2 separate regions of the Homo sapiens genome follow, and region 2 is linked to region 1. The links come from fine-mapping of genetic effects on gene expression. A gene starts in region 1. The other region holds a variant in brackets. All regions are shown on one strand. Distances are between the middles of the regions. Region 1 holds the start of NELFA (negative elongation factor complex member A). Region 2 overlaps NSD2 (nuclear receptor binding SET domain protein 2).

The links.
Region 2: its variant is fine-mapped to the expression of NELFA in gastroesophageal junction (GTEx, PIP 0.90).

What each region holds. Positions count from the first base shown.
Region 1 is chr4:2,003,023-2,014,962 of GRCh38, reverse strand. It overlaps NELFA (negative elongation factor complex member A), which reads left to right and starts at 5,989. Exons shown (of 11, transcript NM_005663.5): 1 at 5,989-6,213. The coding sequence starts at 6,004. LOC124900839 reads left to right here. Exons shown (of 4, transcript XM_047416543.1): 4 at 4,790-5,957. The coding sequence starts at 5,202. The coding sequence ends at 5,957. RefSeq lists a silencer at 5,239-5,618 and enhancers at 5,679-6,198, 5,806-6,306.
Region 2 is chr4:1,978,181-1,989,985 of GRCh38, reverse strand. It overlaps NSD2 (nuclear receptor binding SET domain protein 2), which reads right to left. Exons shown (of 22, transcript NM_001042424.3): 22 at 7,794-11,348. The coding sequence ends at 11,077. NELFA (negative elongation factor complex member A) reads left to right here. Exons shown (of 11, transcript NM_005663.5): 3 at 117-278; 4 at 1,979-2,068; 5 at 3,584-3,714; 6 at 3,803-3,872; 7 at 4,122-4,210; 8 at 5,067-5,178; 9 at 5,873-6,138; 10 at 6,291-6,390; 11 at 6,483-7,263. The coding sequence ends at 6,667. MIR943 (microRNA 943) reads left to right here and starts at 3,509; the gene lies at 3,509-3,602. The variant A/TGTTA (reference allele first, on the strand shown) is at 6,981.

The sequences.
Region 1 (11,940 bases):
CATGGGCCAGGTGTGGAGGCTCAGCACTTTGGGAGGCAGAGGCGGGAGGCAGAGGCAGGAGGATCCCTTGAGCCCAAGAGTTTGAGACTAGCCTGGGCAATATAGCAAGACCCTGCCTTGTGAAAAAAAAATTGGACATATACCTTTACGACTGAAAGCAAGACAACAGGATTCTTACTGCCCTGCTAATGTTCAACAGGACTGGAATCTTTGGCCAATACCAAAAAAATAATAAAGGAAAAGTATAAATATACATGGAAGACACAGAACTGTCATTGTCTGTAAATGAAATATTCAGAATAACCAACTAAATCAACCCACTATTAGAATAAATATAGGAGTCCATAAAGGTTGTTGGATGTATGTCCAACTTAAAAAATAGTATTTCTCGTATTCATAATAACCAACTGGAAAATAGAATACAGGATATCATTCATAAGAGCATGAAATACACTAAGGCATCTGAGTTAAGCTAATGAAAATGATTAGGAACTGTATGAGGCCTGGCGCGGTGGTGCACACCTGTTATCCCAGCTCTTTGGCAGGCCAAGGTGGGAGGATTGCTTGAGGCCAAGAGTTTGAGACGTCATCTCTACATAGTGAGACTTCATCTCTACAAAAATTTCAAAAGCTAGCTGGGCATGGTGGCACGCGCCTGTAGTCTCAGCTATGAGGCTGCAGTGAGCCAAGATTGTACGGCTGCACTCCAGCCTAGGCAAGAGTGAGACGCTATCTCTAAAAAAAATAAGTAAGAAAGAACTGGCCAGGCGTGGTGGCTCATTCCTATAATCTCAGCACTTTGGGAGGCCAAGGCGGGGAGATCACTCAAGGCCAGGAGTTGGAGACCAGCCTGGCCAACATGGCAAAACCCCATCTCTACTAAACAAACAAACAAACCACAAAAATAGGCTGGGTGTGGTGGCTCACACCTGGATCCCAACAGTTTGGGAGGCCGAGGTGGGCGGATCTGAGATCAGGAGTTCGAGACCAGCCTGGCCAACATGGTGAAATCCCGTCTCTACCGAAAATACAAAAATTAGCCAGGCTTGGTGTTGCATGCCTGTAATCCCAGCTACTCAGGAGGCTGAGCGATGAGAATCACTTGAACCCGGGAGGCGGAGGCTACTAGGGAAGGTGAGAGGCAGGAGAATTGCTTGACCCCGGGAGGCGGAGGTTGCAGCGAGCCGAGATCGCGCCACTGCACCCCAGCCTCACCAACAGAGCGAGACTCTATATCAAAAAAGAGAAAAACACAAAAATTAGCTGGGCATGGTAGCATATGCCTGTAGTCCCAGCTACTTGAAAGGCTGAGGCATGAGAATCGCTTGAGCTTGGGAGGCGGAGGCTGCAGTGAGCTGAGATCGCACCACTGCATTCCAGCCTGGGCAACAGAGTAAGACCCTCTCTTAAAAAAAAAAAAAACTGTATGGAGAAAAATAGTAACGTCTACTGAAGATCATAAAGAAAGAAAAATGAAAGCTTGTCTGTGTATCATATACTATATAAAGATGTCAGTTCTCTCTAAATTAATCTACAAACCCAATGGAAAGCCAATCAAAATACCACTAGGGTTTTTTTTTAGAAATTCAGTAAAGTTGTAAAATTTATTGCTTTAAAGTAAAAATAAGGACTTTTTTTTTCCCTTTGGTCGCCCAGGCTGGAGTGCAATGGCACGATCTCAACTCACTGCAACCTTCGCCTCCCGGGTTCAAGCAATTCCCCTGCCTCAGCCTCCCAAGTAGCTGGGATTACAGGCGCCTGCCACCACGTCCAGCTAATTTTTGTATTTTTAGTAGAGACGGGGTTTTACCATGTTGGCCAGGCTGGTCTCGATTTTGAGATGGAGTTTCCCTCTTGTTGCCCAGGCTGGAGTGCAATGGCACGATCTCCGCTAACTACAACCTCCGCCTCCTGGTTTCAAGCGATTCTCCTGCCTCAGCCTCCTGGGTAGCTGGAATTACAAGCGCCTGCCACCACGCCCAGCTAATTTTTTGTATTTTTAGTAGAGATGGGGTTTCACCATGTTGGCCAGGCTGGTCTCGAACTCCTGACCTCAGGTGACCCGCCTGCCTCAGCCTCTCAAAGTGCTGGGATTATAGATGTGAGCCACCATGCCCAGCCAAAATAAGGACTCTTTATGTTGCAGAGTCAGGCAAATAAATTAGAAAAAAAGATAAAACTGCCTTCACAAATGGCATGATTGTCTTTGCAGAAAACTAATACAATGTATGAAAAAACTACTGGAACAAATAAATGCGTTTAGCCAGGCTGCAGGATACAAAATCAACACACAAAAATCTGTTGTATTTCTATATACTGGCGACAAACACTGATAAATTAAAAATTTTAAACAACACCCTTTACAACCACATCAAGGTTATGCAATACTTGGAGGCAATTCTGAAAAGATGTGCAAGACCCTTACATTGAACACTACAAAATGGGGCTGAGAAAATTTATTTTTTAATTTATTTTTAATTTTTTAGAGACAGAGTCCCACCATGTGGCTCAGGCTGGTCTTGAACTCCTGAGCTCAAGTGATCCTCCCACCTCAACCTCCTAAGTAGCTGGGACTACAGGCGCACCACCAGCCCAGCTTTTTATATTTGTTGTAGAGATGGGGTTTCGCCACGTTACTGAGGCTGGTTTCCAACTCCTGGGCTCAAGCAATCCACCCTCCTCGGCCTCCCAAAGTGCTGGGATTACATAGCCATGAGCCTAGCTGAGAGAATTTAAAGACCCAAATAAACAGAGAGAAATACTATGTTCACTAGACAGAAGTTACCAGTTCTCCCTCAACTGACCTACAGATTCAACACAATTCCACTCAAAATGCCAGAAGCCTTTTTTTTTTTTTGTAGAAATTGACAAACGATTCTAAAATTTATATGGAAATGCAGGCTGGGCACTGTGGCTCACCTGTAATCCCAGCACTTTGGAAGGCTGAGGTGGGTGGATCACTTGCGGTCAGGAGTTCTAGACCAGCCTGGCCAACAGGGTGAAACCCCGTCTCTACTGAAAATACAAAAATTAGCCAGGTTTGGTGGTGCATGCCTGTATTCCCAGCTACTTGCAAGGCTGAGCCATGAGAATTACTTGAACGCAGGAGGTAGAGGCTGAAGCAAGCTGAGATTGCATCACTGCACTCCAGCTTGGGCAACAGAGCCAGACCTTGCCTCAAAAAAAAAAAAAAAAAAAAAAAAAAAAAAGGAAATACAGAGGACCTAAAATAACCCAAATAACTTTAAAAAAAAAAAAGTCAGAGAATTAACACTACCTGATTTCAACACTTATTTTAGAAAGCTATAGTAACCAAGACAGTCTGGTATTGGCATAAAGATAGATGAGTAAGTCAGGATAGAAAAGTCCAGAAAGGATCGTCATTTCGACAAATAATATGGGAACAACTGGATACCATGTTTTAAAATGAAAAAAACTTTGGCTTTCTAATTTTGCAATCTGATAGGTGTAATGAGGCATCTTGTTATTTTAATTTGGGTTTGTCAGGTTGCTGATGAATTTAAGCATCTCTCCATGTGCTTCTCCGGTATTTGGGTTTCTCCTACGAATTGCTTTTTTTTTTTTTTTTTTTTTTGAGACAGAGTCTCGCTCTGTGGCCCACGCCTGAGTTCAGTGGTGTGATTTCCGCTCCCTCCAACCTCTGCCTCCTGGGTTCAAGCGATTCTCCTGCCTCAGCCTCCTGAGTAGCTGGGATGACAGGCATGAACCACCACGCCCCACTGTTTTCGTATTTTTAGTAGAAACGGGGTTTCACTATGATGGCCAGGCTGTGAATTGCCTATTCTTATCTTCTGCACATTTGTCTATTGTCGGTCTTTTTCTCGTCGATTTACAAGCATTCCTTTTTTCATTCTGAATATTAATCCATTGCTTTCTGATGCTGTAACTAAGTCCTCCTAGTGGTTTGTCTTCTTGGTTAAGCCAGATGTTAACTTGGATTTTTCCTGCATAAAACTGAAGACTCAAGATGCATCAAGCACTGTATACAGAAAAGTGCTGCGTATCCTACAGAAAGCTACAGACAGTTGGGGGTCAGAATCATTCGGATTGTTTCAAGTTTGGGGCTATTATAAATAAAGCTGCTATAAACGTTTGCACACAGGTTTCTGTGAACAAAAATTTTCATTTCAACCAACTAATGTTTACGGTTCAATCATGATTTCACAACTTGAAGTAACTTTCACTCTTCTCATACTAAATTTGATATGTCGTCCACTGTTAAACTATTTCTTACCCTCAGATTATAATTATTAAACTTTTTTTTTTTTTTTTGAGAGGGAGTTTTGCTCTTGTGGCCCAGGCTGGAGTGCAATGGCAAAATCTCGGCTCACCGCAGACTCCGCCTCCCGGGTTCAAGCCATTCTCCTGCCTCAGCCTCCCGAGTAGCTGGGCTTACAGGCAAGCCATGCGCCACCAAGCCCGGCTAGTTTTGTATTTTTAGTAGAGACGAGGTTTCTCCATGCTGGCCAGGCTGGTCTCGAACTCCCGACCTCAGGTGATCCGCCCGCCTTGGCCTCCCAAAGTGCTGGGATTACAGGCGTGAGCCACCGTGACCGGCCTAATCATTAAACTTCTTTCAGCACTAGCCCCACTGATGTCACAACTTCACCCATTAGTCAATAACTTGTCTTTGCTGAATTCGACACTTTTGAATCATTTAAAAAATATTCTCTTAAATTTTATGTGCTATTTGCAATGTAACGGTTGTCGACATGACAGTTTTAAGTTTAATCTTTATCATCAACATTTTCTCTATCACTTTCTTCAGTTTAAGCAATCAACAAAACCACCGCTCCAGCACTGATTTGTAGCATTTGCGGGTTTCCCCCGTGTGACTTCCGCAGGACTGCCAAGTTCAAGCCGCCAGGGCCAGGGCACTGCTAGCAGCTGGGCTGAGCCCTGTTCTCCCGGCGTTCCCACCGCCCAGTGGCAATAGCTGTGAACGGCGGCAGGAGCATGGCAGTGGAACAATAAGGAAAAGATCTTTTAAAAAAAAGATATAATACAGAAGCCAAGCAAGGCGGCCCCGACCTGTAACCCCAGCACTCTGGGAGGCAGAGGCGGGCGGGCGGATCGCTTGAGCCCAGGAGTTTGAGACCAGCCTGGCCAACATAGGAAGGCCTCGTCAAAAAGACAAAAGGGTAAAACGAATTTAATAAAATGAAGTTTAACTTTTACTCATGTTTGTATCTAATGACAAGCTTTTAAAACTGAAAAGTTCACTACTGGCTCCTGCCTGGCGGCTCCAGCCCGACTGGGGGCCGGGGCCTCCCTGCACTGTGGGGTCACGAGTGCCCCTGGACAGCTCCCGAGCGCCCTCCGACCCGCATGCTCAGCGCAGCCCCGTCGGCGGCGCGCCACGGGCAGAGCGGGCTCAGCGGGGGACGGAAGCTCAGCGCTGCGACCGGGATCCCGCAGGCTCGCTCCGCAGGGCCGCGGCTCCTCTCCGTGCAGGTGCTGGGCCCGCGGGGGCGGGGCGTCCACACGGTCCGCGCCGAGACCCAAGCGGGGAAAAAGCGAAGAGCGGACAGCGGGGCAGGTGCCACAGGGAGCCTCCGCCCCACCGCGCGAGCAGCAAGTCTGCGGCGCTTGACACCTGCACTGCGAATGCCAGGCCGCAGCCCGGGCTCCCAAGACGCGAATACGCGCGCCTGCTCGTGACGTCATTTTTTGCGGTCTTCCCGAGAGCCAGCAGAGGGCGCCGCCATGATGTTTTACGGAAGCCGATAGTCCTTGCTCAGCGGCACCCCGTCCTTCCGGCTCTCGGCTTTGCCACAAAGCTTCCCGAAGACGCGGCCGCTACCCGGAGACGCGGTCGCCACCCAGAAGCGCTCTCCCGGGAAGCCCCGCTCGTGGGACCGCGCCACCTGCGCCGCCTCTGCGGCCCGCAGCCCGACGGGCGCCGCCATGTTGGGGTCCTAGCGAGGGACGCGTAGGTGTCTTCATAAGATGCCGGGGCAGCGGCGCGCGCTTTCCCCCAAGATGGCGTCCATGCGGGAGAGCGACACGGGCCTGTGGCTGCACAACAAGCTGGGGGCCACGGACGAGCTGTGGGCGCCGCCCAGCATCGCGTCCCTGCTCACGGCCGCGGTCATCGACAACATCCGTCTCTGCTTCCATGGCCTCTCGTCGGCAGTGAAGCTCAAGTTGCTACTCGGGACGCTGCACCTCCCGCGCCGCACGGTGGACGAGGTAAGGCAGGCGTGGCGCCCCGCGGCCCCCAGATTCCCAACCTTCCCACCTCCGACCCGCACACCCAACTCCGGACCCTCCTCGCTCCCTCCCCCAACCTTCCCATCCCCCTTCAGACTGTTAACCCCCCCGGCCCGCCCTCACGCCCCCTCCTCGCTCCTCCGAATACCTCCCTCCAGTCCTCACCTCCCCCTGGGTCCTCATCCCCCGCCTCGATCCTCATCTCCCACCTCGGTTCTCATCCCCACCGTGGGTCTTCAGGACCCCCCGCCCCTCCTCGCCCCCTGGGAATCCCCCACTAGGGTCCTCACCTCCCTACTTTTCGTCCTCACCCCTACCCAAGTTTTCACCTCCCCTGGGATCCTCAATCTCCTCCCCGCCGGGCCCCGGGTTCTCGCTACGACCCCCAGGTCCTCACTCCCCTCCCTGGGCCCCCGGGTACTCATCCCCACCCGCCCCCGCCTCCCCCGCCTTCGGTCCTCACCACCCTAATCCCCCACCGTGCCGAAGCGACCGACTCTTGGAGCGGGGGTGCGCCGGCCCCAGCGGGGTCTCCCATCGGGGTTTCCCGTCGGGGACGCAGCCCTGGTGACCTGGGCGAGGGCGGGGATCCCGAGAGAAACCCCCGCGTGAGGAAGGGGCGGCCTGGGCTCGGTAGCTCCAGTGTCCGCTGACTGGATTTTCTTGTTCTCACCTCGCAAAGACCCCGGCCGTCCGGAGCGCTCTGTGTCCGTTTTACTCTTTTCTACACGCCGTTTTGCGTCATTCCAATAAGTGGGTGTGTGAGGTTTGTTTTCTTTTTTCCTAAACTTTATATTGTATCGCTTTCCGTGCGAAATAAACCGAGTAGTTTTGCAGACTATTGAAGCCCCATGGTTGTTTAAACGTTCCTGGCTACTGATGTATTATTAGCTATTATAGGTTGTAATTGCTTTTGATTGAGATATGACATGTATGGAAAAGTGCATTTTTGTTCAGTTTAACGAATAATAATAGCATCGCGAGCCACTCCTGTGATCCTTACACAGGTGGAGAAGTAGAACCATGCCTGTTCCTTGGAAGCCTCCCACTGGTAATCACGGCCTTCTTCCTTTCCCCTTCCTCATTTTGGAAAGGTAATCATTTCTGTGCCATCTCCCCGGTGTGAGCAATTATTTATGCACCCCTAAATGGCACAGCTTGGTTGCCGGATTTGGAGTTAGTGTGATGGTATCATAGTGTATTTTGTGTGTGGCGTGCATGTGTCTTTTTGGTCGACGCCGTGACAGTTTCATCCACGTTGCAGCTGACTGCAGTTTAATTTTCACTGCTGCGTGGTATTCCTGTCTGTGAGCACGAGGCACTTTATCCATTCTGCCACAGTGACACGCTTAGCTTTTGTGCTCTTGTAAATCATCCCGTTACTACATTACGGTCATATGTTCAGGTGTTTGGAATCTTGGATTTCTCTAGGGTATAACATCTAGGAGTGGAATTGTGAGGATCATAGGATCATGCCAAATTATTTTTCAGAGTGTTTTGTTTTTGTGTTTGTGTTTTGTTTGAGACAGGGTCTGGCGCTGTCAACCAGGCTGGAGTGCAGTGGCACCATCGTGACTCACTGCAGCCTTGACCTCCTCACCTCAGATCTTCCCATCTCAGCCTCCTGAGTAGCTGGGACTACAGGGTTTCACCATGCTGCCCAGGCTGGTCTTGAACTCCTGACCTCAAGCAATCTGCTTGCCTCAGCCTCCTGAAGGGCTGGGATTACAGGTGTGAGCCATGGCACTCGGCCTGCTGTTTGGTTTTCTGCTTTGAGAATTGTATATTCAAATCTGCTTTTAAATTCTCTTTTTTCCCATTGTTTTGTAAGAGTGTCTTTTTTATTATTTATTATAAATGCTAGATATCAGTCCTTTTTCAGTTACAAATATCTCCCAGTTGTCCTTTGACTTTGACTTAGCTTCCTGGAATCCTTTTTTTTTTTTTTTTTTTTTTTTTTGAGACAGCGTCTCACTCTGTCACCCAGGCTAGAGTCTAGTGGTATAATCATAGCTCACTTTAACCTTGAACTCCTGGGCTTAAGCAGTCCTCCCTCCTAAACCTCTGTAGTAGCTGGGACTGATGCGCTGCCACCACGCCTGGCTAATTTTTGTGCATGTGTATGGAGATGGGGGTCTTACTGTATTGCCCAGGCTGGTCTTGAACTCCTAGCCTCAAGTGATCCTCCTGCCTTGGCCTCCCATAGTGTTGGGATTACAGGTGTGATCTGTGCGCCCAGCCCTTTTCCTGGAATCATGGATGAATAGAAGCTCCTAGTTTTAACATAGATGGTGTATTCATCCGCCCACTATCATTGGTGCCTATTGTGTCTCCCCGAGGGACATGCCCGGAACACTCCCTGGGTTATCTTGGCGTAGCTGTACAGTTTTACCTTTCGCACTTGAATCTTCAGTCTGCGTGGAATTGATGATTGTGTGAAGCAGGGAGTCTAATTTTCCACATGGATGTGCAATTAGTCCAGCACCCAACGTTGATTGAAATGACTGTCCTTTTCCATTGATCTGCACTGCAGCTTCTGCTGTGGATGTGTTTCTGGGCTGTGCTCTGTTCTTTTGGTCATTTACATATCGATGTGCTAATAACCCACTAAGTCGGTTCTTGTCACTTTATTTATAAGCCTTGTTAGCGGACGGAGCAAACCCTCCCACTGTATCTTTCTCCGGGATCATCTATGGCTATTCTTGTCCCTTCACACTTCCACATGTATCTTATATACTTACTTCTTAAACACGTAGAGCCTGCCTGCTGGGATTTTAAGGCTGAGCTGAACTTGCAGTTCATTCTGGGGTGCTGTCCTCTTTATATTGCATCCTATAATTTGTGGGTGTGGGCTTATCTATTTAGATGTTCTTTGTGATCTCTGTAGGGGTCTTCCATCTCATATATTACCACCTATTTCATATTTTTCCATGCCGTTGTAAATGGTATCTGTTAAAGTCTTAGTTTTTACTTGTTGCTGGTATATAGAAATGCGTTGATTTTTGTTTTTGTTTGTTTGTTTGTTTGTTTGTTTTTTAGACGGAGATCTCACTCTCTCACCCAGGCTGGAGAGCAGTGGCGCGATCTCAGCTCACTGCAACCTCCTCCTCCTGAGCTCAGGTGATTCTCCTACCTTAGCTTCCCGAGTAACTGGGATTACAGGCATGCACCACCACACCTGGCTAATTTTTGTATTTTTAGTAGAGATGGGGTTTCACCATGTTGGCCAGGCTGCTCTCGAACTCCTGACCTCAGGTGAGCCACTATGCCCAGCCTGATTTTTGGATAATGAATTTGTGACTAGTATCTGTGCTAAAGTTTTGCTAGTTGCAAAATTTTTTTTTTCTATAGAATCTCCTTGATTTTTCTGTGCACTTCATATTATTTTTCTTTCTCCAATTACCTTTTGTTTTTTTTCTCGTCTCACTGGACTGGCTAGGACCCTCCAGCTCATTGTCTTACCTCCGATCACACAGGGAGAACTCGGAATGTTTTGCCAGTGAGCATTATGTTTCCTGTTGTCTTTAATAAATACCCTTTATCTAGTTAAGGAAATTCTCTTCTTAGAAGACTTGTAAAAAAAAATCTTTTAATCATGAATTTTTTTAAAATAGCTTTATTGGCTGGGTGCAGTAGCTCACACCTGTAATCCCAGCACTTTGGGAGGCCGAGGCGGGCGGATCACGAGGCCAGGAGATCGAGACCATCCTGGCTAACATGGTGAAACCCCGTCTCTAAAGAAAAAATACAAAAAAATTAGCCGGGCATGGTGGCAGGCGCCTGTAGTCCCAGCTACTAGGGAGGCTGAAGCAGAAGAATGCCGTGAACCCAGGAGGCAGAGCTTGCAGTGAGCTGAGATCGCGCCACTGCACTCCAGCCTGGGCGACAGCAAGACTCTGTCTCCAAAAAAAAAAAAAAAGCTTTATTAAAATATAATGTATAGCTGGGTGCAGTAGCTCATGCCTGTAATCTCAGCACTTTGGGAGGCCAAGATGGGCGGATTGCTTGAACCCAGGCATTCGAGATCAGCCTGAGCAATATGGTGAAACCCTGTCTCCATAAAAAATATAAAAATTAGCCAGGGGTGGCGGCACATGGCTGTGGTCCCAGCTACTTGGGAGGCTGTGGCGAGAGGATCACTTGAGCCTGGGAGGTTGAGGATGCGGCGAGCCATGATTGCATCACTGCACTCTAGCCTGGCCGACAGAATGAGACCCTGTCTCAAAAGAAAAAAGATATTATTTTATGTACCATATAATTATGCCAGGTAGTTCACCATTTAAAATGTACACTTCAGTAGTTTTTAGTATATTTACAGGTTTGATGGTCATGCTAGTCAATTTTCAAACATTTTCATCATCCCCCAAATAAATCCTACACTCATTAGCATTTGCCCAGTCCTCTTCCTCCCCACTCCTAGGTGACTAGTAATCTACTTTTTGCTTCTATAGATTTGTCTATTCAGGATATTTTATATAAATAGAATCATACATCTGGTCTTTTGTGCCTGACTTCTTTCACTTAATGTAATGTTTTCTTTTTTCTTCTTCTTCTTTTTTTTTCTTTTTTTTGAAACAGAGTCTTGCCCTGTCGCCAGGCTGGAGTGCAGTGGCGCGATCTCGGCTCACCACAACCTGCGCCTCCCAGGTTCAAGGGATTCTCCTGCCTCAGCCTCCCGAGTAGCTGGGACTAGAGACACGCGCCACCATGCCCAGCTAATTAGCTAATTTTTGTATTTTTAGTGGAGACGGGGTTTCACCGTGTTGGCCAGGATGGTCTCCATCTCTTGACCTTGTGATCCACCTGCCTTGGCCTCCCAAAGTGCTGGGATTACAGGCATGAGCCACTGCTCCCGGCCTTTATTTCTTCTTTAAAAAAAAAAAAAAAAAAAGGATGCATATGCAGAACATGCAGATTTGTTACATAGGTATACGTGTGCCATGGTTTGCTGCACCTATTGACCCGTCCTTTAAGTTCCCTCCCCTCACTCCCACCCCTATTAGGCCCTGGTGTGTGTTGTTCCCCTCTCTGTGTGCATGTGTTCTCAGTGTTCAACTACCTGCCACTTATGAGTGAGAACATGCAATGTTTGGTTTTCTGTTCCTTTGTTAGTTTGCTGAGGATGATGGCTTCCAGCTTCATCCATGTCCCTGCAAAGGACAGGATCTCATTCCTTTTTATGGCTGCGTAGTATTCCATGGTGTATATGTATCACATTTTCTTTATCCAGTCCATCATTGATGGGCATTTGGGTTGGTTCCATGTCCTTGCTATTCTAAGCAGTGCTGCAGTAAACATACCTGTACGTGTGTCTTTATAGCAGAATGATTTATATTCCTTTGGGTATATATCCAGTAACAGGATTGCTGGGTCAAATGGTATTTCTGGTGTTAGATCCTTGAGGAATCGCCATGCTGTCTTCCACAATGGTTGAACTAATTTACACTCCCAGCAAAAGTGTAAAAGCCTTCCTATTTCTCCACAGCCTCGCTAGCATCTATTGTTTCCTGACTTTTTAGTAATCACCCTTCTGACTGGCGTGAGATGGTATCTCATTGTGGTTTTGATTTGCATTTCTCTGATGATCAGTGACGTAGAGCTTTTCTTCATGTTTATTGGCCTCATAAATGTCTTCTTTTGAGAGGTATCTGTTCACCTCCTTTGCCCACTTTTTGATGGGGTTGTTTTTCTCTTACAAATATGTTT
Region 2 (11,805 bases), 25 kb after region 1:
GCTCCCATGACCTAACCCTAACTGAGGAGGGTGTGGGGCTGGGCAGCCGCCAGCTCCTCTCAGCCGGGAGGTCTGCGGCCTGGGCGCCCCTAACTTCATGTGGTTCTTACCGGCAGTGGGTGAGTGTGAAGCGTCTGCCATGCTGCCACTGGAGTGCCAGTACTTGAACAAAAACGCCCTGACGACCCTCGCGGGACCCCTCACTCCCCCGGTGAAGCATTTTCAGTTAAAGCGGAAACCCAAGAGCGCCACGCTGCGGGCGGAGCTGCTGCAGAAGTGTGAGTGGCCGCGGCCGCCATCGGGCATTGTCTTTGTAGTTTCCAGTCATAGGTTTCTTAGGTTCTAAGGTACCAAGACTGCCCCTTCAAGGTGGCGTTCTGGGCCAGGCATGGTGGCTCACACCTGTTGGGAGGCTGGGGCAGGTGGGTCGTTTGAGCCCAGGAGTTTGAGACCAGCCAAGAAACCCCATCTCTACCAAAAGTACCAAAACATTAGCCGGGCATGGTGGTGCGTGCCTGTGCTCCCAGCTACTCGGAAGGCTGAGGTAGGAGGATCACCTGAGCCCACGAGGTTGAGGCTGCAGTGAGCTGTGATCACACCACTACACTCCAGCCTGGGAGAGAGTGAGACCCTGTCTCAAGAAAAAGAAGATAAAGTTCTGCATAAAGTTTTTTGTTAGAAGTTTATCACTATATTAAACTTTATGTTCTGAAAACATGCTTTAAAAACTTCAGAATTTAGGCTGGGCATGGTGGCTCACACCTGTAAACCCAGCACTTTGGGAGGCTGAGGCCAGCAGATCACCTGAGGTCAGGAGATCGAGACCAGCCTGGCCCACATGGTGAAACCCCGTCTCTACTAAAAATACAAAAATTAGCTGGCTGTGGTGGTGCATGCCTGTAATCCCAGTTGCTTGGGAGGCTGAGGCAAGAGAATCACTTGAACCTGGGAGGCGGAGGTTGCAGTGAGCCAAGATTGCCCCACTGCACTCCAGCCTGGGCAACAAGAGCGAAACAACATCTCAAAAAAAAAAAAAAAACCCACCAACTTCAGAATTTTAGGTGAAGGCATCTCTAATCTCTGTGACCAAATGAACTCTGTGCCAGCTGAGTCACGCTGTTGGGCACGGTGGGTGCCAGGGTGAATGGCTGGAGGGGCACGTTCCTTACTCTCACGTTGCTGCCTTCTGGAGTGGCGGGTGATCTCAATTCCACTTGAAAGATATTTAATCATTTCAGTTAACGTTTTCCCAAAGCACGACAAAGATTTCAATAACATCGTTTTATTTTGAATGGTTATGGAATTAATATTTATAATGTACATCAATACCCCGTTTCCAGAGAATCCAAATAAAAGGCTGACAGCAGCTGTGCATGGATCTTGGCTGGAACGGGCAGCAGCCAGGGCCCAGCGCTGTCCGGGAGGCTCCGTGCAGCCCCGGGCCCACTGGGTAGCCCAGGAAGGACTCTGCTGGCCCCTTGGGCCCCACCCCCTTTGGAGGCCAGCAGTGGCCACAGGGTCTGCTTTGGGCACTCGGTGTCCCCTGACCCTTCAGCCACACTGAACCAAGTCAGGAATATCTCTTCGTTTGTTTCTTCCTCATATTTTTGTATCTAGACCGTGCCTGCTGACCCTCAGCGAGGACGGTGCTACCACTGGGCCAGGGGGAGGCCCGGGTCGATGGAGAGGGCTCATGAGGTCCCTCAGCTCCTCCTCGGCTGCCTCCCCCCTGCCATGGGGTCCTGGGAGGTGCAGCCACAGCCACCCAGCTCCCGAAACTTGCTCACCTGAGTGAGTTTCTGACTCGTTGTAAAGTGCGAGCTGGTGTCAGGCCCGGCTCGGAACAGCTGCTCATTTAGAGAGAATGCAGCGTTCACGGCTCAGGCCGTCGGATGAATCCACTTGACAGAGATGTTTTTACAAGGGCCAAGGGCTCTCGCTCTGAGGATCCCTGACATATGTGACCTCTTCCTTCCAGCCACGGAGACCGCCCAGCAGTTGAAGCGGAGCGCCGGGGTGCCCTTCCACGCCAAGGGCCGGGGGCTGCTGCGGAAGATGGACACCACCAGTAAGGCCCCCACCCTGGTGCCGTGAGCCTTGCTTTTGGGGCAGAGCTAAGGGCTTCACCTGGAGACCCGCTCCCTGTTGGGGAGGTGGTGCCTGTGAATGGTCTTCAGGCAGCAGTGTTGGGAGCCCGTGGGAAAGCGAAGGCACTGGGGCAATTTCACCGGCTTCTCCCCTTGGGGAGCTCCCTGGGAGGATGTGTGGGCACGGAGACAGGAGGGCCGGGATCTGAGGACAGTGCTGGGCACGGAGACAGGAAGGCCGGGATCTGAGGACACCGCTGGGCATGGAGACAGGAAGGCCGGGATCTGAGGACAGTGCTGGCCCCTGCTCCTCTGCTGTTGGCACCGGTGGCTCTCGGCCTTCCCAGCTCGGGCTTTCGGCCCCAAGTGCTGCTCTTGGGTTCCGAGTGTCCCTGGGCGGCTCCGCGGGGAGGACGTGACCGTGCTCAGCTGCCCGTGGGGCTGTGCCCCCCGCACCCCTCCATCTGCCCTTCCTGATTTGTGCTCTCAGGGCTGGGCGTGAGCTTAAGCAGGATGCACCCTGATCACAGGAAGACGGCGTGCCCCTGGGAACCATGGCAGGGCATACTCACCCCAGAGGGTGCTGGATAGTGACCTGGGGGCCAGAGGGCAGGACGGGTGTCGTCCTGTGCTGAGACAGCTGGGTAAACTTGCAGATGGGTGGGGCTGAAAGGGCAGCCTTACAGGCGCTCTCCATGCAGCTCCCAGACCAGCCTGGCTTAGTTTATTTGGGCTCCCATAATCCCACAGTGTTCACATGGGACCTAGTAGAAGGCATCTTGGGTCTGCTGACTATTGTCGCTGTGTGGGGGGCCGTCCCTGGGTCATGTTCCTGCCCACCGCAGCCGAGGTTCCACCTTGCTCTCCTCTACCCCGCCTGGAGCAGACCCTTGTCTTTCCACCCCCACCAGGCATCCCAGGGCCAGGGCTGCACCTGCTGGCCCAGGGAGGGTGGGCCAGCCGTTGAGCAGTGTGTCCAGCCTGGCCCGGTGTGCTGATGGCACCATCCCCCGGGCGTCCTCTCTCCGGGCCTGGCACCATGAGAGCCACGCACGCCTTGGAGGGTGCGTGTGGGCGCTGGTGGGTAACAGCGTAGGTAGGCCTCAGGAGTGTCCTCAGGGGACGGGGAGAAGGCTTGGGAGGGCGGCCCTCAAGCCCAGGCGCCTGGCTTCATGCCCCTGCCGGTGGAGGCACAGGAAGGAGGCAGAGCTCAGCCCCCGCCACACTGGTGAGAGACTCCACCTGGTGAGATCCTGTGGCTGGGCTGGGGTGCCGCTGTCTTTGTTTGGTGTCTTGGCAAAGTGTGAGGTCGTGGCTCCAGGCGTTCCCCTGCTCCTTGAGGTCCGGGATCCTGGGGGTCCTGCCCGCTGCCCGCCAGGGGTTTGGCCCTTCCCCTCTGCGGCGCTAGCCTAGAAGAGGGTGGGACGTTCTGAGCTCGGGGTGGGGGACGTTTGCCGGTCACTGCTGCTGGCGCCCTGACTGTTGCCGTCCTCCAGCCCCACTCAAAGGCATCCCGAAGCAGGCGCCCTTCAGAAGCCCCACGGCGCCCAGCGTCTTCAGCCCCACAGGGAACCGGACCCCCATCCCGCCTTCCAGGACGCTGCTGCGGAAGGAACGAGGTGTGAAGGTAGGCCCGTCCCCCAGCTCCTGTGGCACCCCGGGGCCCGTTGCGCCCTGGTGCCGTCACTAAGGCAGGGCTGTGCTTGTCTTGGCAGCTGCTGGACATCTCTGAGCTGGATATGGTTGGCGCTGGCCGAGAGGCGAAGCGGAGAAGGAAGACTCTCGGTGGGGGTTGGGGCCTGCGTGTCGGCGGCAATGGGGGTCCCTGCGGGCCCTGCCCAGTTGGGGTGGGTTGTGCCCACGCTCGGCGGGCAGGGCTGTGCCCCGTGAGGCTGCTCTCCGTGGGTGGGTGCCTGCTTTTCTCCTCGCTCCTTGGTGGCCTCCCCTGGGAAGCTGTTTGATTCCCTGCCGCTGCCCTGAGCTGACACTGCAGACGCGCCCGGGCACTGGCGAGGACTCCTGTTTTGTCCACAGATGCGGAGGTGGTGGAGAAGCCGGCCAAGGAGGAAACGGTGGTGGAGAACGCCACCCCGGACTACGCAGCCGGCCTGGTGTCCACGCAGGTAGGGCTCGGGGCTGCACCCCATGTCTGGCACCACTGCGGGTGCCCCTTTTGTTCCGATTGTGGCCACTAGTGTGCTCTGTCGGAGAATATATATATGTATGTACATATGTGTGCAGTCTGTATTTATGTATATATACGTATATGTACATGAGAGGCAGTGTGGGCCGTGCCCTGACATGGGCATCTGACTCAGGCTTGGAGCGGGAACCTGCCCCACGCTTGCTGGAGGGGCTGCCAGGGGAGTCCTCCTCAACCCTGTGCCTCAGTGTCCCGTCAGGCAGGGCTGGTGGGACCTAAGCCTTGCACGTGGCCGTGAATGGGTGCAGGACAGGCCTGTGGGGGTGCTGGGTGGTCAGAGGCCTCAGTGTCCCGGAGACCAGGCCCTGCCTGCGGGTGGGAGGCAGCCACGGGGCGCGGCAGGTGCACAGAGGCTGCAGTGGGTCGTCTGAGGCCAGGGCCTGGAGGAGGCCACACTGTGGGGTCACTTCAGGATAATAAGCTCCTTTCTTCCCGCCGCTGCGTGTTCTGTGTTTCTTAACATGAGCATCTTCCTTTATATCAACGCTTCGTGGTAAGAAAAAGCATCGCTCCTTCTGTGCTCAAGATGGGCTGTTTGGGCTCCTCAACCCCTCCCCTCTCCTACACAGGAGCGGCTCAGTCCCCAACTCTGCTGGGGCGCCAGGGGCCAGGGGTCCCGTTGTCTAGCCCAGGGAGCTCGGGAGAGTGGCCCCCGCCTTCCTGCTCTAGCTCGGGGGGCCACAGCCTGTGGCAGTGGAGCTCCGGGTCGGGCCATGTGTTAGCACATGCCGGAAGCATGGCCTCTTCTGGAAGGAACCTTAAACTCTGTGTTCCAGAAACTTGGGTCCCTGAACAATGAGCCTGCGCTGCCCTCCACGAGCTACCTTCCCTCCACGCCCAGCGTGGTTCCCGCCTCCTCCTACATCCCCAGCTCCGAGACGCCCCCAGGTGAGTCTGCTGGCCCCAGCCTGGAACCAGCCAAGCTGCCTGCCAGGACATGACCTTGCCCACGGGCGCTGCCAGGGCTGCGGTTCTCACTCCTGCATCTCTGTTGTCCCCCTTCTGCCTCAGCCAGAATCTGCTGGGGGCAGATGCCCCGCTGTTCAGCTTGAGCTCCAAGACATAAACCAGCTGCTTTGCCCCACCCTGCCCGTCCTGGGCACAGACAGGCAGCGGCCCCAGGGGACACGGCAGGAAGGGGATTGGGTTCGAAAGGGTTTTCTGCCAGGTGACCCAGCTCTTGTTGCTGGGTAGGCGGGAGGGGAGCTGAGAGCCATCCCCTCCCAGACGGAGGGCACTGCCAGGCTCACAGCACCTCAGGCCAGGTCCTGGGCCCAAGGGGCTTGAGGATACAGCCTTCCTGTCTTCCCAGCAGTGCCTACGGTATGGGGACCTGCTGCAGGCCAGCAGCTGGCCAGAGTCCAGACATCTTATCTGCGAGTCTGGAAAGGCCTGAGACCACTGGCCTTGTTCCTCTGGCTGGGGCTTCTGGGGCCTGTGCCTTGGCTGGGGGCCACAGGGAGTTCTTGTCAGAGGGTAGCAGGACAGAGAAGGGGAGCTGAGCCTGTCACCTCCAGGAGCACTAGGGTTTGGGAACAGGGTGGGGGTCCAGCCCCCTCACCAGGCCCCGGTCTACTTGCAGCCCCATCTTCCCGGGAAGCCAGCCGCCCACCAGAGGAGCCCAGCGCCCCGAGCCCCACGTTGCCAGCGCAGTTCAAGCAGCGGGCGCCCATGTACAACAGCGGCCTGAGCCCTGCCACACCCACGCCTGCGGCGCCCACCTCGCCTCTGACACCCACCACACCTCCGGCTGTCGCCCCTACCACTCAGACACCCCCGGTTGCCATGGTGGCCCCGCAGACCCAGGCCCCTGCTCAGCAGCAGCCTAAGAAGAACCTGTCCCTCACGGTAGGTGTACACTGGTAGGGCCCACAGGCCACCAGGTAGGTGGTACGGCCCTGGCCACCTCCCCTAGCGTGGGGGTGCCACGGTGCCTGCAGGGGGATGCAGGAGGTGGTCCTGGCGGGGCCCTGGCACCCACACCCCTCTCCCCGCTGTAGAGAGAGCAGATGTTCGCTGCCCAGGAGATGTTCAAGACGGCCAACAAAGTCACGCGGCCCGAGAAGGCCCTCATCCTGGGCTTCATGGCCGGCTCCCGAGGTATGTTCATAAGGCAGGGCCTGGGGGTGCACCGGGCCGGGTTGGGGGCGGGTGCCCCCAGACACCCACCCAGCAGCTCCTGCTCTCTGCAGAGAACCCGTGCCAGGAGCAGGGGGACGTGATCCAGATCAAGCTGAGCGAGCACACGGAGGACCTGCCCAAGGCGGACGGCCAGGGTAGCACAACCATGCTGGTGGACACAGTGTTTGAGATGAACTATGCCACGGGCCAGTGGACGCGCTTCAAGAAGTACAAGCCCATGACCAATGTGTCCTAGAACCACCTGCCTCACAGCTGGCCGTCACTTGTGGGGGTCCACGGGACGATGGCTTTGCCAGCTTAAAGTAACCGGATGGCGGACACCTGGCCCCCGAGGTCCCCCGGCCGCCGCCCTGCTGCTGACCCAGCCTGTTTTAAGTTCTGGATGCATTTCTCTGGGGTATTTGGGGCTTATTTTTAAAATTTTAATATGGGTTCTTTTTTGTGTGATTTAAGACACTTTTTGGACTCAACGTTACATTTTTGAATGTAGTAAGTAAATTAACCAAAAAAGTTACAACTTCCTAATTTTAGTGACAGCTCTGCCTGTT[A/TGTTA]GACTCTTACTTTTTAAAATCTTTTCTATTTTCCCTCGCTGGGGCAGTGCCCTCCTACCCCCAGGGTTGAGGGGACCAAGGTGGCACGGTGGTACTGGGGGTGCGGCAGGGACACCCGACCACACCAGAGCGTGGGAGACGGTGGGCCTTGTCCCCTGCCTGTGCCTGCCTGGGAGTTTTGTATTCATCTTTTGTATAGTTGTGGACATTTAAGACAGTCTTTGGGTACCTATTTTCATTGTAAAACTATCTGAACCATTAAAGTCGAGCTTTTCTAAAGAAAGCCACCATAGCTGTGTTTGGGGCCAGCTTGTCCTCCCTGCTCCGGGGACCCAGTCCCTCCCTAGGCGGCCATCAGGACGGGGTGGGCCAGGGCTGGGGGCTTCCTAGGACACCCTGGCCCACAGGGTGGGGAACAGGTAGGATCAGCCCTCGGGGTACTCCCTTGACTTACTTGGCTGTGGGCCTGGGGACCACCCGGCTCAGCCGACTGCAGGGCTGGGGGACAGCAGTGCTTCCTTCTCTCTAGACCATTTCACCCTTAATGGGAATTTGGGAAGCAAATTATTTCTGAAAGAAGAAGAAAGCATTTTTCCAAAGTCAGTCAGTTATGCCTGCTATTTCCAGTATTTGTTGTTATACTTCCCAAGGTGGCACTGCCTCTCCCCAGCGGGTCAGGTCAAAGGCAAAATGACACAGTCAGGACAGGGAGCCCCACCCATCGGAGGCATCAGTGCCACACCCGATGCTTTGCAATTCAAAGTAACTGGAAAAAAAATCAAACAATCCCATATAAAATAAGTTAAGAAAAAAGCCTTTAAAATGTTTTTAATACAAAAATACTCATACACAATTTTCCAAACACAGCTTTCCATTTTAAATGCTATTTTCCCCCAACTGGCAAGTCTCAACTCTCTATTTCAGTATATCCCTCCCCCCAAAAAGTGAATTTCAAGTTTTTAAGTCTAACTATCAAACCTGGTGACAGCACCCAGTATTCCTAAAAGGAATCTGACCTTACATTGTATGAAGTTTAGACACCAATAGGCACATTTAAGTTTGTATTTAATTTCTGACGGGGCATTTCACACCTCAACAGGGTATGGTGAGGCTGTGACACCCCGTGGACACAGCATTTTACTCTACTGACTAACAAACAGTCATCAACTACACTCATAGGATCAAGATATTTGGCAACTGACAGTCATTTGCATTAACTTGAATTATAAAACAGGTTTAATTCTGGAAAATAAGGTAGTCCTGGAAGATGGGCACTGCACACGCCGGGGTTTAGATGTCAAGACAGACAAACACTGCGAAGGGGACCCAGCCAGCCATGGACGGGTGTCGCCGGAAGAAAGGCCGGCCTGAGGACGGACAGCTGGGTTCTCACTTCAGGTGCCTGAAGAGTTTCCCCCACAGGTGACCACATTTTAAGCTGCCCATTCGGACACATCCCCCTGTGGGCGCACACGGGTGGGTATGGGTTTAGGTGCAGATGCTGGTTTCGGATGCCAAGGAATCCTGAGGGATTGGGGCGGTTTTTGTGTTTTGCTTCACATTAATGATGGAGGATTGAAGCTGATGTTCAGGAAGTCACCACGTCCTCAGAACAAAGCTGGGCAGGGCCGAGAGCCAGCCACACCCACGGTCACAGCTGGGGGCGTGGTCAGCCCCAGTGGCGAGAAACCCTGCAAGCTCAGGGCCGCTACCCCAAAGCCTGGCTCCACTGAGTTATCAACGGGTATTGTAGAGACATTCAAAGTTAGTGTTACTTGCTCATTAGTTTAACAGTTTTTGGAAAGGGGGAGAAACATATTTAAAATGTTTGCATTATTTCCTTCAGAAAAATCATAAAATTTGGAAGTATTATCAAAGCGATTAAAAATCACAAGATTTCACTACTGTCCAACACAAAAATAAGTTAATATCTGCTCCCCAAAGTGCACTGCAAAGCCGATTCTGCTGTTTTGACGTAAGCATTGGTAGTCCCTTACCTGCCGGAAGGGATCTTTTGGGCAAGTGACAGCGGGGCCCTGGGGCCTTCGACTCTAAGGTGTGTGTGGGGACACTGCCCGGCCTGTCCCTAGAACAACCTTCCAAGTTAGGGCATCATAAGGAGCATAAATCTATGAGCCGATCCAGTATTTTCTTAGGACACTTTGGGAGAAGTTAGAGTCTGAACTGGAAAGCACTACTCCCACCCTGTCTTAACCGGCGAGTGCCCCTCAGAGGCCACGGCCGCGCGAGCAAGTCAGTGGCTACACAGCTCGTTTCCCCTGGGTCCTCTGTGTAGTTAACTTTGCTGGGGACCCTGATGGGAGAAGGGACAGCCACCAGCCAGTGAAACTTCCAGTCAGTGCTCAGGGAGGCGTGGGACCCTGCAGGGCCACACACCCCTGAACCCCACGCTTACAGGTCACAAAACCACGGAGTAGCCACTCTCAGGTCCAAAGACACTGCAGTTTTTACCAAGGCATAAAAGATGCCACAGAAAATTTAACAGGAGCCTCAGCAGCAGTTTTCAAGGGGAGTTCTGTAAACTTCTCTGCAAGATGGATGTGTCCCCCTTAGGTTATTTTAAGAAAAGGCCATAAAAAAGCACCTGCTGCTGAATGTTCTCTCCCTCCCTCCCAGACAAGCAGCCCCTCAGGACACGTGGGCAAAGGCACACATGGTGCCCCCTTCTCAGGGTGCTCCAGACTTCCCAGGGTCAAGGATCCCTCAAAAAAAGAACCAAGTCTTAAAACATATGTAGTACTCAGATAGATAGGTCTCACTCTGTAGAACTGGACCTTTTAAAAACTAAAGTGAAATCTCACAGGAGAGTGGGTGTCATACCTGGCCTAGACCAGTGCCCATAACACACGTACGAGGCACGCACACCTGCCAGGCAGGCCTCCACCCCCAGGACCGCACCTCTCAGTAGGTGCCCTGGCAGAGGGCACATGTGATCAGCAGAGACTGCATCTTCCATCACCAGACCCACAGAGTGCTGAGATGGAAGCCACTCTGGGTGGCAGGAGAGCTAGACTCCGTCTCTCTTTAGACCCACGTGCTGGGGTCCCCGGGGCCTGCAGCGCCCTACGGGGCTCCCTAAGTTGTCACTTCCTGTGCTCTAAGCAGACTGCGGTCTCACGCCCTGCAAAGTCACTCCTTTCGCCATGGAGCTCAGGGCCGCATCAGTAAACACACACTTCAGTCGGTGGTGATTTGTGAAATAGGTTTAGCAAAAATATATTGAGAATAAAAATCAGAAACTGGTAAAGAAAAGCCAAATGAAAAAAATATACAAAGTTATCCCCCAAATGTTGATAAGAACCTAGCGAGTTCAGAAGATAGGCCCAGGTGAGAAGTAGGCCCAACCCGGCCAGGCCTCGAAAGTGCTCCGCGTAAACTACACGTTGAAAGTGGACGTGTTATTGGCATTTCATTCAAATCCATGAGGAGAAAAAACTACGGGAGGAAATCTTACAACACCATTGCTGCCACCACCTGCAGGGCCAGCTTCTCACTAGGATGGAAAAGAAGCGTTTCTGAGGAACAATTCACATTAGTACAAAAAAATGATACAGCCATTTCCAAAGAGCAGAGTAATGATCACAATGGCAGTTTCGAGGAATCCAGGGTCAGTCCTCACACGGGCCTCACCCAGCCTCTCCCGAGTGGCGACGGCGCTGAGAGCCAGAAAGGGGGCAACGCGAAGACGAGTTTCTAGCGACCCTTGGGAAAAGCCTACGCTACACATTTCAGAGGAGATTAAAACATTCCATATGCCAATTAACTTTAACCTAAAAAAATAGAGTGGGAGGGAACCTTGACATTCGGAGAAATTCAAGTGTGGCGGTAACGCTGAGGAGTGAGGCTGTTTGTCCAGGAACGCTGAGCTGGGCTCAGACGGTCATCAGTGCAGACGCAGCGGACGCTGCTGAGGATGGCTCAGTGGTGGGGAGGCGCTCCCTCCCGAGGAGGCCTGTACGTCTGTGTCCTGGCGGCTCGAGCTGGGTCCTCCGGGCCAGTTCATGCTCGCCCTCTCCCGCAGGCAGGGCCGGCCGCCCTGCACCGCCCCTGGATCCGGCCAAGCGGCCGCCTGGCGCTATTTGCCCTCTGTGACTCTCCGCCAGCCCCTCCGCCGCCGCCTCTTCCCCTTCGGCTTCCCTGGCTCTGGGGGGGGCTTCTCAGTCTTGGTGCTTCTGACCGATGCCGCCCCTAAGTCATGCTCACAGCAGTAGGACCGCCCGTCCGGGGTGCAGCTGAAGGCTGTCCCGTCCTGGTGCTCCTTACAGAACGAATTGGGGCAGAGGTGGCAAAATGAAGTCGAAGGTTTGCCACACACGTCACAATGATGCCAAGGACATTCCCACTTCCCTGCAACAGAACACAAGATGTGAGCACACAGAAGTGATGGAATCACGACTTCAACATTATCGTGGTTGAAGATGACTTACAACTGTCAGGTCAAATGAACACAAAATAGTGCTGGCTCCAGCGAACAGGACGGGCAGACAAACTGTCTACCACAGCCCGGGCGGGCTCCCTGGCAGGGCCTGTTGACTCCACAGTACCTGCCAGGCCCCTAAGGACCACCTGTTAGCGTCTCTTTATGTTTCGGCAACTGAGAGGAGCTGTGCCGGGTGCAGGAGTGTCCCCCAGCGCGGCGTGGACAGGCAGGGGCTGCTGTGCTGATTTCCATGTGACCTGCCCTCTCCCAAGGGACTGATTTTCAACTTGGGTATTCATCTTTCTGGCATGACTCTGTAAAAGCTCTGTCACGTTAGGGACCACCCTCTCGCACCCATGGCCAACACTTTTCTCTATCGTGTGT